Homo sapiens: one gene and its partner. The protein of the gene in region 1 interacts with the protein of each later gene in a pairwise test. Each region holds a gene or a part of one and is shown in the gene's direction. Other genes may lie near its edges.

Region 1 (7,018 bases):
CTCAGGGAGGAATAAGGGATTTGAGAAGCTCAGGTAGCCCAGCGAGCAGTTACAGCAAGAAGCTTAGGCTGGGCGGGTGGGAGGTTTGTTCTTGGGTCCGCCCAGCATCGGACTTCCTGGCTTCCTCTGATGGCTTCTGCCTGAGCGCTTCCCCAGGAAAGGCCGGGCTGCTCCTATGAGAGCCACGTCTCGTTTCCAGCCCTAGCGAATGGCTTCAGTTTGCTTGGTGGGAGTTGGGCAGAGTCCACCTGAGCAGCACGTGCAGGGGCTGGGCAGGCTGGGCTGCTCCCGGGGCCACCCTCTCCCCACAGTGCATGCCAGCACTTGCATGGGTCCTCTCAACAGCCCTTGAGTTTCAGCTGGAGTGTCCCGGTGAGGAGAGTCGTGAGGACGCCATGTGTGTCCTGGGCGCGCCCCATCACTTTCCTCTCTGTTCCCTCTGCTTTCCAGCCCCTGAAGTGCTGTGCCTGGAGATACCATTGTGGACCCTGGAGAGGCACCTGCTGCTTATGCGGTAAAACCTCTACCACCCCAAACCTGGTCAGTTTGAGGGGAGCCGCTGCCATAGTATCCACAGAGAAGGCCGGAGTTCCAGCCGTGTGGAGCAGCAGAGGGGAGTCTGACAGGGTCACCTCCTCCACAGAGAGAATTGGCAGCTGACTGCACTGCCAGGAGCCAAGGCCTAGGTGTGTGGAGCCTGGAAGACCAGGGATACCTGAGGCAGGAGGTGCAGCGTGTGGAGTGAGAAACCCGAGAGGGACTGGGGCCTGTGCTCAGGATCAGCAGAGCAGGCAGGCAGAGTGGAGAGGGAGAGACGGAGCCCCAGAAGGGGAGCAGGAGGAGAGGGAAGTAGTGGCAGCAGCCCAGGCCAGGCGTGTGTCCTGCAAGTGCTAGGACCAGCCACCCCTCCCCATGGCCTCCAAGCCGGCTGCCGGGAAGAGCAGAGGGGAGAAGCGGAAGAGGGTGGTGCTGACACTGAAGGAGAAGATTGACATCTGCACGCGCCTGGAGAAGGGCGAGAGCCGGAAGGCACTGATGCAGGAGTACAATGTGGGCATGTCCACCCTCTACGACATCAGGGCCCACAAGGCGCAGCTGCTCCGGTTCTTCGCCAGCTCCGACTCCAACAAGGCGCTGGAGCAGCGGCGCACGCTGCACACGCCCAAGCTGGAGCACCTGGACCGCGTCCTGTACGAGTGGTTCCTGGGGAAGCGCTCCGAGGGCGTCCCCGTGTCAGGCCCCATGCTCATCGAGAAGGCCAAGGACTTCTACGAGCAGATGCAGCTCACTGAGCCCTGCGTGTTCTCCGGAGGGTGGCTTTGGCGCTTTAAGGCCAGACACGGCATTAAAAAGCTAGATGCATCCAGTGAAAAGCAGTCAGCCGACCACCAGGCCGCGGAGCAGTTCTGTGCGTTTTTCAGGAGCTTGGCTGCTGAGCACGGGCTGTCCGCCGAGCAGGTTTACAACGCTGATGAGACCGGCCTTTTCTGGCGGTGCCTGCCAAATCCCACTCCGGAAGGCGGGGCTGTGCCTGGCCCCAAGCAGGGCAAGGACCGGCTGACCGTGCTGATGTGTGCCAACGCCACGGGCTCCCACAGGCTCAAGCCCTTGGCCATCGGGAAGTGCAGCGGTCCCAGGGCTTTCAAAGGCATCCAGCACCTGCCCGTCGCCTATAAGGCCCAGGGGAACGCCTGGGTGGACAAGGAGATTTTTTCCGATTGGTTCCATCATATCTTTGTGCCCTCGGTGAGAGAGCACTTCAGAACCATAGGTTTGCCGGAAGACAGCAAAGCCGTTCTCTTGCTGGACAGCTCCCGGGCTCACCCGCAGGAGGCCGAGCTGGTGTCCAGTAACGTTTTCACCATCTTCCTGCCTGCCAGCGTGGCCTCATTGGTGCAGCCCATGGAGCAGGGCATTCGGAGAGATTTCATGAGGAACTTCATTAACCCTCCGGTCCCCCTGCAGGGCCCCCACGCCCGCTACAACATGAACGATGCCATATTCAGCGTGGCCTGTGCCTGGAACGCAGTCCCTAGCCACGTCTTCAGGCGGGCCTGGAGGAAGCTGTGGCCGTCGGTTGCGTTTGCCGAAGGCTCCTCCTCTGAGGAGGAGTTGGAGGCAGAGTGCTTCCCAGTGAAGCCCCACAACAAGTCCTTTGCACACATCCTGGAGCTTGTGAAGGAAGGCTCCTCCTGCCCGGGCCAGCTTCGCCAGCGCCAGGCCGCCAGCTGGGGGGTAGCGGGAAGGGAGGCAGAAGGGGGACGGCCCCCTGCTGCCACGTCGCCAGCAGAGGTTGTGTGGAGTTCAGAAAAGACTCCGAAAGCTGACCAGGACGGCAGAGGAGATCCTGGTGAGGGCGAGGAGGTGGCCTGGGAGCAGGCGGCCGTGGCCTTTGACGCAGTCCTGCGCTTTGCGGAGCGGCAGCCATGCTTCAGTGCGCAGGAAGTGGGGCAGCTGCGGGCGCTGCGTGCCGTGTTCCGGAGCCAGCAGCAGGTGAGGAGGCGGCGTGGTGCCCTCGGGGCTGTGGTCAAGGTTGAAGCCCTCCAGGAGGGCCCTGGTGGCTGTGGGGCCACAGCTCAGTCTCCCTTGCCCTGCTCATCCACAGCAGGTGACAACTGATGGCTTCTCTGCCCTGCCCTGGCCACTGGCCCTGTTTCTCCCCACACCCTGGAGTGGCATGGTCCTGTGCCCCGACCCCACCTGAGGCAGGAGGGCATGTGCAGACACTCAAGAGCCCTTCCAGGAGTGGGTCGCCCACGGGTGTGGCTCGGGTGCCCAGGACGGTCTGTGCCCGAGGTTCCTGTCAATACAGGTTTTATTTTATCACTTGCCGTGTCATCCGAAAGTGAGGAAATGTTTTGGAAGGGTCCACCCTAGCCTAGAACAAGCCAGAGCCGCACCCTGGCTGGAATGGGGGCCAGGCTGAGCCGATCTGGTCTCGTGTTCGCTGGCTGATCATTGCAGTATCAGAGGGTGGAGATGTCAGTCTGTCCACGTGGAGAGAAGTTGCCCTCCAGGCCGACAGGAGGCCATGCCCACCGCCCCTGGACAGGCTTCGTCTCAGAAGGCTCTATCTGCTGGGCTGGCGGCCATCCCCGTGTTGGGTGGACCCCGAGCACGGTTGCCTGAGGTCCGATGGCCCGAGAGCTGGGACTCAGTTCTTGGCCTGCTAGCGGCTGAACAGGCCGCACATCTCACTTCAGTTGTGGCCTCATTCAGCAGAATGACTCTGGAACCATCCTCTGTTACCCGCAGATCCTGTCCCATGGGCTCTGGCCCCAAGATGTTGGGGGGCCCCACGGAGAGTTGACTTGGTAGAGTTCCTTTCTGGGAAGAAAGTAGGAGTGGCTGACCAGGCCCTGCTCATCACCCGGATAGAGGACACGGACCCTGTGTGGTATTTTGGCATTTTGGCTCAGAGTCCAATGTACCATGTTGCCCAGAATTTCATACTTATGGCCTTTACATGAATACGTCTTGATCAGACATTCAGAGATTAGTCTTAGGTTTGCACGTAAGTCACTGAAAACAGTAAAACAGGCTGCTTAGATTTCTAGCAGTATGTGTGCTCTTATCCCCAGCTGTTAGCACGTTAGTAATACTTTTGGGGAGGAGTTGTCTGTCCTGGTCAGTTTTCACAGAGGCGGTTGTAAGAGGATGTGGTTATTTTCTCCATGTCTGTAGTTGCTTTGCGGCATCTCCATTTCACGGGCAACACTCACTGCCTGCAGCTGAGATTCCAGAACGCCCTGTGTCCACAGTGATTAGCCTCGTCTTTCAGCGAGCATAAAATAGGTGCATTGTCCTTTTCTTTTCTTGAGGCAGGGTCTCACTCTGTTGACCAGGCTGGAGTGAAGTGGTGTGATCCCAGCTCACTGCAGCCTCGACCTCCCTGGCTTGAGTGATCCTCCCGCCCCAGCCTCCTGAGTAGCTGGGACTAGAGGCACGCACCACCGCGCCTTTTTATTTTTTTTGTAGAGACAGGGTCTCACTGTGTTGCCCAGGCTGGTCTTGAACTCTTGGCCTCAAGCGATCCTCCTTCCTCATCCTTCTAAAGTGCTGGGATTACAGGTGTGAGCCACAGCACTCGGCCTAAATAGGTTTTTCTTGCTATGTTATTTTCAGTGCTTTGCCCTTGAATTCTTTTCCTCTCTTAAATTCATATCATTTGGCCGAGTCAGCACGTAGTTTGCATTCCAGCGTCTGCTGTTGATTCCACTGAAACCTCTGTTCTCATGAAGGAGAGGATTTGGCTCGCTGTGGTTTCTCGTACTTTCACATCTCTGTAGATACAGGGGCAAAAGTCATTGCTGACAGAGCCCTATCTATGTCCTGGAAGTGTGTGTTTCTTGCTTTGAATGCATGTGTGAAGATTATAAAAGCCAAATAGTTTTTAAAGATCTCGGTGCTGAACGACAGTCCCAGTTCCCATTTGTGTCCCATTGTCTTTGTGGTGTCACCCGCACTGTTTGCTTCATTGTCTGGGGAACTTCTGCACATCATGTACTTTGTGCCATTTCTGGGCTCACGTGTCACTCCTAATAGAGCCTCTTAACCAAGACTGCTGGATTGCAGCTGCTTGAGGCAACACAGGAGGTTAGAACATGTCCCGAGGGCTCTGAAACAGTAGGACATCCTGGGTGGGTGGAGCTGGGGAGGGCATGGGCAGGCCAGCTGGCCGAGCTCCTGGCTGGCTCTCCTGAGTCCTCTGGACATGGCTTGTCCCTGTCAGACTGTAGCTCTTCAGGACCTGAGCTCTTCCCGTTCTTGATCTGCTCTTGTGCTGACTGTGCTGGGCTGATGGGTAGGCGCTTGTCCCCAGTGAGTGGCTGTGTCCTCAGGGTGCCCCTCTTCCAGACCAACTGCAGCAAGGCCTGGAGCCTGACTCTAGGTGCAGCCCTTGTGGCTGGAATCCCTTGTGCCACCCAGGGGACTCGGGCCCTGCTCCTCCTGCAGCCCCTCCTCACCTGGGCTCGCTGCTGGAGTGAGGTTTTTAGGGAGCCCAGAGCGTACTCATCTCTGAGCTGCTGGGCCCAGCTGCCTGGTGCATACCTCTTGCCTCGGTCCTGTCCCCCAGAACGCTTTATGGAGACTGCCGTGTCCTCCGAGCACTTTGTTTTCACTTCCTGACCCGTCTCAGAAGCTCAAGTGGTTGAATGTTTTAGCCTCAGAATCTTTTTCCCCAAGCCCTCTCAGGTGGAGCCCCGCTGTACCAGACACCACAGCACAGCTCTGTGAGGCTGTGTCTCTTCACTCTGTTTCTGGGGCTGCTGAGGCCCCTGGGAAGCCCTGGAGCTTGCCAGAGCAGAGCGAGAAAGTCTCTGGTCCTGTTTAAATGCCTCCGCGTTTTATCTGTGAGCACCAGGCTGGAGCCACTCCCTGTCTTCTCACAGTGCCCCTGCAAGTTGCAGCCTCAGTTTTCCAGTGGCTCGTGGGGTAGCAGGTGCTGCGTCATATGGTTTGGGACCTCTGTGGCTGCTTCCAGCCTGCTAATAGAACCTCTTTCCACCACTGCCTTCATCTTTGGGGTGGCACCCCTGAGTGCTCAGGCCTGAGGGCGCTCCTGTGTCCTCACTCGGGACAGGCAGCCTCCACTCTGGGAGCTCCCATCCCTCGGGATGCCCAGGAGAGGCCATACTTTCAGGGTGGCATGGTGAATTCAGGGGTTAGGATGGGTAGGTGGTCTTTCAGCCCCTTCTACGTTGGGGTTGGTTTACAGAACACCTGTCCTGCCTGTGCCAGCCTGGCCTTCTGCGAGCACCCCAGGCACGCTGTCCTGGAAGTTGTCTGTCTCCTGCATAGGAGGGTCTAGAGCAGACCTTGCCCTGGGCCTGTCTGTGCGTGACTTCCATATGCTTCATTCGTGCTCAGCCATGGCTGAGCATGCGATGGAGAGCACCTGGACTGCCCCTGACGTCGCAGGCCACTGTTCTTATCCAGTGGGCCAAGTGATTGATTGCTAGTGGTGGAGTTGATTGGAAGAAAGGAAGTCGCAGCCCCTGCCCACGGCTTCCCCAGCTCGCTGGGGTTGGAGGACTGTCATCAGTTGTCCCCAGTTAAAGTCCATTTGGAGGAGGTTCAGGGTCCCAGTGGCTGGATGTGCTTGTGGAGGGACACGGTTTGAGGCAGGGGTTTGCAGAAGGTGTAGACTGCATCCATTCTTGGGAGGCTGTGGCACAGGGCAGCGACAACTTGGGACAAATCAAGACCCGTCCACACTGCACCTCAGGGACCTCACCTCACGCCCCACATAAATGTGCTTATTGGGGATCCGGGTGTGGTGGCTTCTGCCTGAAATCCCAGTACTCTGGAAGGCCACGGCAGGAGGATCACTTTAGTTCAGGAGTTTGAAACCAGCCTGGGCAACATAGGGAGACCCCATCTCTACAGAAAGTAAAAGAAAATGAGCCAGGTGTGGTGGCATGTGCCTGTAACCCCAGCTACTCAGGAGGCCGAGGCGGGAGGATCCCCAAGCCCAGGAGTTTGAGGCTGCAGTGAGTTATGGCCTCTGCACTCCAGCCTGGGTGACAGAGTGAGAGACCTAATCTCTAAAAACAAAAAATAACAAAATGTGCTTTGGGGTCAGGTGTGGAGATCAGGGTCGGGGAGGTCATGAGGTAGGTAGGGGTCAGGATGTGGACAGTCATGGGCTGGTGGGTGTGGCAGCCGTGAGGGGTGGGTGGTGGCCTGGGAGGCAGGGCCTGGGCAGGGCTTCTGCACTTCTGCTGCTTACCCAGCCCCCTCTGGGTTCGAGGACTCTCCTTGACAAGGGCTGAGCTCTCGGGCACTGCGTTGGACTCAGCTGCCTACTGGGAGGCTGGGGAGAATGGACCTGTGAGACCTTGTTTGTCCTCTTCCCTGCCCAGCTCTTGTAGACCCCAGGCCTGGCTGTCCGCAGGGCCAGGAGCTGCAGCCATGGCAGCCACCAGCCTCCCACATGAGCCCCAGCTCCCAGCCCCACACGCCCACTCCTTTGCCCATGTGGTGTCAGCTCTGGCCTCTGCTTCTACACATGGAC
Region 2 (7,865 bases), on another chromosome or scaffold:
GCCCTGCCCTTCCCAGCTCCTCTCTCCAACTCTGAGGGAGAAGACGGAGGGACTGAGAGGCTCACCCTTGGGTCCCAGACACGCTTGGGCCCATCTGAGCAGGAGAGACGTGTTTAGGATCCACGGTGGCTCTGAAGTCACCGTGCGTGGATTTAAATCCACTCCTGCCACTGGTGACCTGTGTGCAAGTGACTTACCCTTTCTGTCCCAGGATGATAATAATAATGGTGCCATGAGTTGTGGAGGTTTAAGGAGTCATTACATGCAAACACAGTGCCTAGTGCATAAGTGCTCAATAAATGTAACTATGTCAGCAGGCACCATCCTCATGTGTTACTCTGGAGCTGGGCGTGGTGGCTTATGCCCATCATCTCAGCACTTTGCGGGGTGAAGATGGGAGGACTGCTTGAATCCAGGAGTTTGAGACCAGCCTGGGCAATATAGTGAGATCCTATTTCTATAAAAATATTTAAAAAATTATTCAGGAAGAAGTTTTGTGAGGAACAAAAAAATTTTAAATTAAGTTAGCCAGGCATGGTGGCACGCACCTGTAGCTTCAGCTACTTGAGAGGCTAAGGTGGGAGGATTGCTTGAGCGTAGAAATTCAAGGCTGCTGTGAGCTATGATCGTGCCACTGCACTCCAGCCTGGGTGACAGCAAGACACTGTCTCTAAAAATAAAAAATTACTCTGAACCTTGGAGACACAGACTAAGGGGTCCAGAATCTATACCTACAGTTAAACGGGAGTTGGAACATCAGCAGTGAAGGACCATTCATATAATGAAGCCACCTTGGCCTCAGGGTTGGGGACACAGAGGAATGACAGGGATGGTGACCAGCTGGCAGGTCAGTGCCCTGTAAAGACGCAAGCTGCCCAGCAACAGCCAGTTACTGACATGTGAAAATGTGGATCACGTTGCCACATCTTTGGATTTTCCAAAGAAGCAGGAAATTCAGGCCAGGCGCGGTGGCTCAGGCCTGTAATCCCAGCACTTTGGGAGGCTGAGGTGGGCAGATCACAGCGTCAGGAGATTGAGACCATCCTGGCTAACACAGTGAAACCCTGTCTCTACTAAAAATACAAAAAAATTAGCTGGTTGTGGTGGTAGGCGCCTGCAGTCCCAGGTACTCAGAAGACTGAGGCAGGAGAATGGTGTGAACCCGGGAGGCAGAGCTTGCAGTGAGCCAAGATTGCACCACTGCACTCTAGCCTGGGTGACAGTGCGAGACTCTGTCTCAATCAATCAATCAATCAATAAAGAAGCAAGAAATTCAATTTTTAATTTTTTTTTCTTTTTGAGATAGAGTCTTACTATGTCACCCAGGGTGGAGTGCAGTGGCATGATCTCAGCTGACTGCAACCTCTACCAACTGGGTTCAAGCAATTCTCATGCCTCAGCCTCCAGAGTAGCTAGGACTACAGGTGCATGCCACTATGTCCAGTCTCACTCTGTCACCCAGGCTGGAGTGCAGTAGTGCGATCTCTGCTCACTGCAACCTCCACCTCCCGGGTTCAAGCAATTCTCCTGCCTCAGCCTCCTGAGTAGCTGGGATTACAGGTGTGCGCCACTATGCCCAACTAATTTTTGTATTTTTAGTAGAGACGGGGTTTCACCATGTTGGTCAGACTGGTCTCGAACTCCTGACCTCGTGATCCGCCTGCCTCAGCAACCCAAAGTGCTGGGATTACAGGCGTGAGCCACTGCGCCCAGCCAGCCCCAGCTAATTTTTGTATTTTTAGTAGAGATGGGGTTTCACCATGTTGGCCAGGCTGGTCTTGAACTCCTGACTTCAGGTAATCCTCCCGCCTCAGCCTCCCAAAGTGCTGGGATTACAGGCATGAGCCACCATGCCAGGCAATTTTTAATGTGTGTTTTTTGTTGTTGTTGTTGTTGTTTGTTTTTTGAGACAGAGTCTTGCTCTGTCGCCCAGGCTGGAGTGCAGTGGCACGATCTCGGCTCACTGCAAGCTCCGTCTCCCAGGTTCACGCCATTCTCCTGCCTCAGCCTCCCAAGTAGCTGGGACTACAGGCGCCTGCCACCATGCCCGGCTAATTTTTTGTATTTTTAGTAGAGACTGGATTTCACCGTGTTAGCCAGGATGGTCTTGATCTCCTGACCTCATGATCCGCCTGCCTCGGCCTCCCAAAGTTCTGGGATTACAGGCGTGAGTCACTGCGCCCGGCCTAATTTTTTTTAAAATTATTATTATTATTATTTTGAGACTGAGTCTTGCTCTTGTTGCCCAGGCTGGAGTGCAGTGGCGCCATCTCGACTCACTGCAACCTCCACCTCCTGGGTTTTAAGTGATTCTCCTGCCTCAGCCTCCTGAGTAACAGGGATTACAGGTGCACGCCACCATGCCCAGCTAATTTTTTGTATTTTTAGTAGAGACAGAGTTTCACCATGTTGGCCAGGCTGGTCTTGAACTCCTGCCCACAAGTGATCTGCCCACCTCAGCCTCCCAAAGTGCTGGGATTACAGGTGTGAGCCACCTCGCCAAACCATCTTTTTTTTTTTTTTTTTTGAGATGAGAGTCTCGCTCTGTCACCCAGGCTGGAGTGCAGTGGCATGATCTCGGCTCACTGCAACCTCCACCTCCCAGGTTCAAGAGATTCACCTGCCTTAGCCTCCCAAGTGGCTGGGACTACAGGTATGTGCCACCACTCCCGGCTAATTTTTTGTATTTTTAGTAGAGACAGGGTTTCACCATGTTAGCCAGGATGATCTCAATCTCCTGACCTCATGATCTGCCCGCCCTGGCCTCCCAAAGTGCTGGGATTACAGGCATAAGCCACCGTGCCCTGCCCGGACTTTTTTTTTTTTTTTTGAGACAGGGTCTCACTCTGCCACCCAGGCTGGAGTGCAGTGGTGCAATCATGGCTCACTACAGCCTCCACCTCCCAGAATTAAGTGATTCTCCTGCCTCAGCCCAAGTAGCTGTGACCATAGCGATGCACCACCACGCCAGGGTAATTGTTTGTTTTTGTTGTTGTTGTTGTCTTTCTTTTTTTTTGAGACCGAGTTTTGGTCTTGTTGCCCAGGCTGGAGTGCAATGGCACGATCTCAGCTCACTGCAATCTCCGCCTCCTAGGTTCAAGCGCTTCTCCTGCCTCAGCGTCCCAAGCAGCTGGGATTACAGGTATGCACCACCACGCTGGGCTAATTTTTGTATTTTAGTAGAGATGGGGCTTCTCCATGTTGGTCAGGCTGGTCTTGAACTCCTGACCTCAGGTGATCCACCCACCTTGGCCTCCCAAAGTGCTGGGATTACAGGCATGAGCCACCGCGCCCTGCCCAGCTAATTGTTTTTAAGTTTTTTGTAGAGACAGGGTTTCACTATGTTGCCCAGCCTTCAAACTCCTGGGCTCAAGTTACCCTTCTGCCTCAGCCTCCCAAAGTGCTGGGATTACAGGCATGAGCCACCAGGCCTGGCCTTTAGCAATTTTTTCTCTTTCCTGTTTTCTCTTTTCCTTCCTTCCTTCCTTCCTTTTCTCTCTTTCTCTCCCTCCCTCCCTCCTTCTTTTTTTTTTTTTTTTTGCGACAGGATCTCACTCTGTCGTCCAGGCTGCAGTGCAGTGGCTCAATCTTGGCTTATTGCAACCTCTGCCTCCCGGGCTCAAGCGATCTGCCTGCCTCGGCCTCACAAAGTGCTGGGATTATAGGCATGAGCCACTGCGCCTGGCTAATTTTTGTATTTTTAGTAGAGACATGGTTTCACCATGTTGTCCAGGCTGGTCTCAAACTCCTGACCTCAAGTGATCCGCCTGCCTTGGTCTCCCAAAGGGTTGGGATTACAGGCGTGAGCCACCGCACCCAGCTGCCTTTAGTAATTTCTGACCTTTGGTTTATTCTTCCCCCCAGCCTCTCAGTCTCTGGACAGAGCCCTCTGCACGCTCCCAGGATTCCTCTGTGTTTGTAACACATACACAATACCAAACTTCCCAAGGGTAGAAAGCCCAATTTCCATGCATCTCAGAGGTATGCCCACCCCAGTGTTAACCACAGTGCCCAGGAATAATAATGCAGTGTGTTGAACTGAAAGAATCAGGTGGCCTTAAGTACACCAGTCGCTTCTCACACCTTGGTTTCCTCCCCGGTGAAATGGGGATGATGGGCAACCTTATCCCATGGGACTGTGATAAGGAAGACAAGAAAGAAAGGCTGTAAAAATTGCGAGCATAGATAACTTGGACGTTGAGAGGCCACCAGTGTTCCTGGGTTTTTAAAGGTTTCTTCTGCTGTGAGCCGGGTGCCCTCTGAGCTATGAGAAAAGAGGTTCTCCCTCCTTGGCCAGGGAACCCCCACTGGCTTCTTTCCTGCCACCGTGAGCCTCAGTTTCCTCCTCTGAGGGGAGGTGTTTGGAGAAGAGGGGCTGGAACACAGGCTATTGCAAATCCTTCCCGGCTGTGCTTGTTCCTGCAGTCCCAACTCCTGCAGCCATGACTTCCATCAAGCATTAAGGCCATGTTTAGTGCGTAGGGTGTTCCCTCTCAGGTCTGCTCTGCCAGCCCCTGCTCCCACCCCAGCCCCATCCCAGGGTTAGTCCAAACAAAGACTGGCCTCAGGGGATCAGCAGCCGCCAAATCTGAGATAGGGCTTTCCGGGCGCGGCCGGCGGAGCCCCTGCGAAATGAAGAGCGGCCAGAAGCCCAGGGACCCTCGCGGGCATCGGGGCTCTCCCAGATGCCCACGCTGCCTGCTCCCACTGGAGACGGGGACAGGGGCGTCGTCCCAGCCTCCTCCCTGCTCCCACCGCTGTCCCCTTTTTTCCCCAGGCTGCGGGAGGCAAAGGGTTAAATCCCATAGAGCTGATGCTCTGACTCCAGGCTAGAGGGGCCCGGGAAGCTGGGGTCACTTCCTGCTCCGTCCCAGTCACCCTGAACTGGTCCCCGGGTCCTCAGCCTGGAATCACCCCTTGAGAAGGACCCCAGAGTCCTCGGCGCCCAGTCCGTCCCCCGAGGCAGGGCACTGAAGGGGTTAAGTCCCCTGGGGCTGGATTCCGCCTTCCGGCTTTTCCCAGACCCCAGAGCCGTGAGTTGGGGACGCCTGGGTTCCCGGGGGGTGGCCTGGAGTGCCCGGGACGGCCGCCGGGGAACAATGGGGCCCGGGAGGCGGGGGCCGGGAGCCCGGGCCTGAGCCCCCCACCCGCGCCCGGGGCTGTGGCCGGGGTGGGGGCGGGCGGGGGGCGCGGAGGGCCGAGGATTCTGGGAAGCGCGGGGGTCGGTGGCGGGGGAGGGGAGCCTGGGGATTCTGGGAAGAGGGATCGGCCGGGGCCGGGGACCAGCGCTGCCAGCGCAGCCCTGGAGGAGCCTGGCAGTGCTGGAAGGAGCCGGGACCCCGGGGGCCGGGGCAGGGGCGGATGCCCAGGCTCTGTATCAGCAGCGGGACGGGGGTCGCGGCTCCGGGGGAGCAGAAGTCCGGAGCCAAGCGGTGGGGGGGCCGGGCCGGGCGGCCGCATTCCCGCCGCCTCCATGTCAGGGTCACCCTGGGCCGTTCCCCACATCTCTCGGGAGGCGGCTCCTCATTCCCTCCCTCTGCAGTGGGGCCATCGCGAGGTCTCAGGCTGGCGTGCCTGGCGCCTGGGCTCCCAGCGCCTCGGCCTCCCTCGGTCTTCCCACGTCCATGCTCTGTGTCGGCCCTGTCATTAACCCTTTCCCTCCTACTCTGGACCACTAGGGGAGAATTTTTTGGAGACCATCGAGGTCCACAAACTCTTACCTGTCCCGAGCAAACACAGCAGGGCATCCTTCCCGGACCGGACATCAGGCAGCCCCCAGTGTGGCAGAGGTCTCCGCTTCCACCACCCCAAAGACACTTACAGGCGGGGAGGGGGGATTCTCGGAGCTTAAGTAGCTGCAGAGATGAAGAAATTAATTTACTTCCTAAACGCTAACTTCTGTCTCTCCTACCGCTCTTTGGCAGGGTGCAGCCAGTCTTGCTTCACCTTGGTCACCTCTCAGCGCCTCCTGCCATGTCTCCCTTGCCCCACTGCCCCTGTGCACACAGCGCCCACCTCACACAGCCATCCAAAGTTTCCAGGCCCCACCCAGGGATTCTCTGCAGGGTGTAAATGGTGTGGGACCTCCTTCAAGCGCTTTGTTCCTGTGGCCCCATTCCCTCATCCTGAACTCATCTCACCATTTTTGGAGTGACAGCTGGCTGTTTTTATTTATTTATTTATTTATTTATTTATTTATTTTACCAGGGGGCCACTTGGAACTCCTGCTCCTTTGCTGCCATCCCCTTGCAAACTGATCTTTAAAGGCATTAGACCAAACAGGTGTTCCAGGGGCTAGGGACATCTCACTCATTCATTCATTCAACAAAGTTTCTGGAGCACCTATTCAGTGCCAGGCTAGGCTTGGGAAACAGCCTCAAGAAAGCAGGACAAAAGGAGTAGAAGGAGGGTCCGGGCAGGAGTGGGGATAGGAGGGCTTTGGTGGGGAGTATGGTTCCAGCTCATGGGTGCAGACCAGCAGGCCTAGTCCCTGGGTCCAACTCCTCCTTTTCTAGCCTGGGAAACCTCTGGGTCCCAGGAATTTCTCCAGCCTATTCTCACTGCCAGCAGGCTCCCCATGAGCTGTCCTCATCACCTGTCTCCTGCCAGCCTCCCATGAGCATGAGTCTCACATGACTCCCAAGGTCACCTCGTGCTCTCAGAGACAGGGGTGAGCCAGATATGGAGCCCTGCTTTTATCATCTTAGCTCTGCCACTTCCCAGCCTTGACCTTGGAGAGGTTTCCCCAGGCATTGATGTACTAATCTGTAAAATGGACAGCCTGATTCCTGGGTCTCCTCACCAGGCTGTGGGAGGACTGGGTGAGAGAAATGACACCATGGCAGGCACTGGGTCTGCCGCAGGTGTTCACACAAGCATCCATCCTCCCCTTCTCCTTACTTTTTCTCTTCCTCTGGGCGGTTCCTGCAGATGCAGCTTTAAACTGCCCCTCTCCCCACCTCCAGCCTGACCCTCTTTCTGTGCTTGGATAACAGGGAAGTGCCCCAGTCCTTTTAGAGGGCCTCTGTCTCCTCTGGGAAACTGGGGTGTTTTTTTTTCTTAACCCTTTAAGTGTCTCAGGCAGCCTCGGTTCACTCTGGGGCACAGAAAAGTTTATTGGTCTCAATTAGCAGCCCCATTAAGAGGAAAATTAGAGTCTTAATGAGCTTCCTCTGATTAGCAAATAACAGGTTTCCCAGCCTCTGGGCATCAGAGGTATGGGGTGAAAAACTCCTTCCCCTGTGGATGTCAGAGACCGCTCCAGCCCCCATCCTGGGTTCAAAGGCTTATGAGTGATGAGTTTTTAATTACGCTCTTAAATTCACCTGCTTGCTTAGCTGTGCGCTTAAGATCTGGAGTGAGAATCAGGCCTGCAGGGGAAGGGGGCCACAGCAAGAACCCGTGCCCAGAAAAATGGGGTGGGAGGACACTGAAGTTCACACAAGGAGGAATGGGGCGGGGCAGGGTGGGAGTGAGGTTCAGGGGGAATAAAGCAAAGTGCAAAATCAGCTCCCAGTGTGCGCTCATCGCTGTCTTCCCCCGCAGGGTCCCTGGAACACTGCAGTCCTGAGCTCTGGGATGGAGCCCGAGACTGCGCTGTGGGGCCCGGATCTGCAGGGTCCGGAACAGAGCCCCAACGATGCTCACAGAGGTGAGGGGCACAAGAAGGGGCTGCGGTCCCGGCAAGACGGTGGTCCCGGCTCAGGGAGGGGCCTGGACTCTGGGGGACACCCGGGGGAGGGAAGAGAGACCAAACCCCGTGTTCTGAAAGGGGCTGGGGGCTGTAGACTCCCTTTCTTTCTGTAGGTGCCGAGAGTGAAAACGAAGAGGAGAGCCCTCGGCAGGAAAGTTCTGGGGAGGAGATC

What was found. The genes of interacting proteins can lie anywhere in the genome.
Region 2: the proteins of JRK (region 1) and ZNF629 interact in binary tests that used the Homo sapiens proteins (3 or more experiments, as listed by UniProt).

Annotation. Positions count from the first base shown.
Region 1 is NC_000008.11:142,659,953-142,666,970, reverse strand, and holds part of JRK (jerky protein homolog), read left to right. Parts: intron 1-450; 5' UTR 451-912; coding exon 913-2,619; 3' UTR 2,620-7,018. UniProt on the Homo sapiens protein: May bind DNA.
Region 2 is NC_000016.10:30,784,196-30,792,060, reverse strand, and holds the start of ZNF629 (zinc finger protein 629), read left to right. Parts: upstream 1-4,855; 5' UTR 4,856-5,033; intron 5,034-7,545; 5' UTR 7,546-7,578; coding exon 7,579-7,651; intron 7,652-7,787; coding exon of another isoform or gene 7,788-7,806; coding exon 7,807-7,865. UniProt on the Homo sapiens protein: May be involved in transcriptional regulation.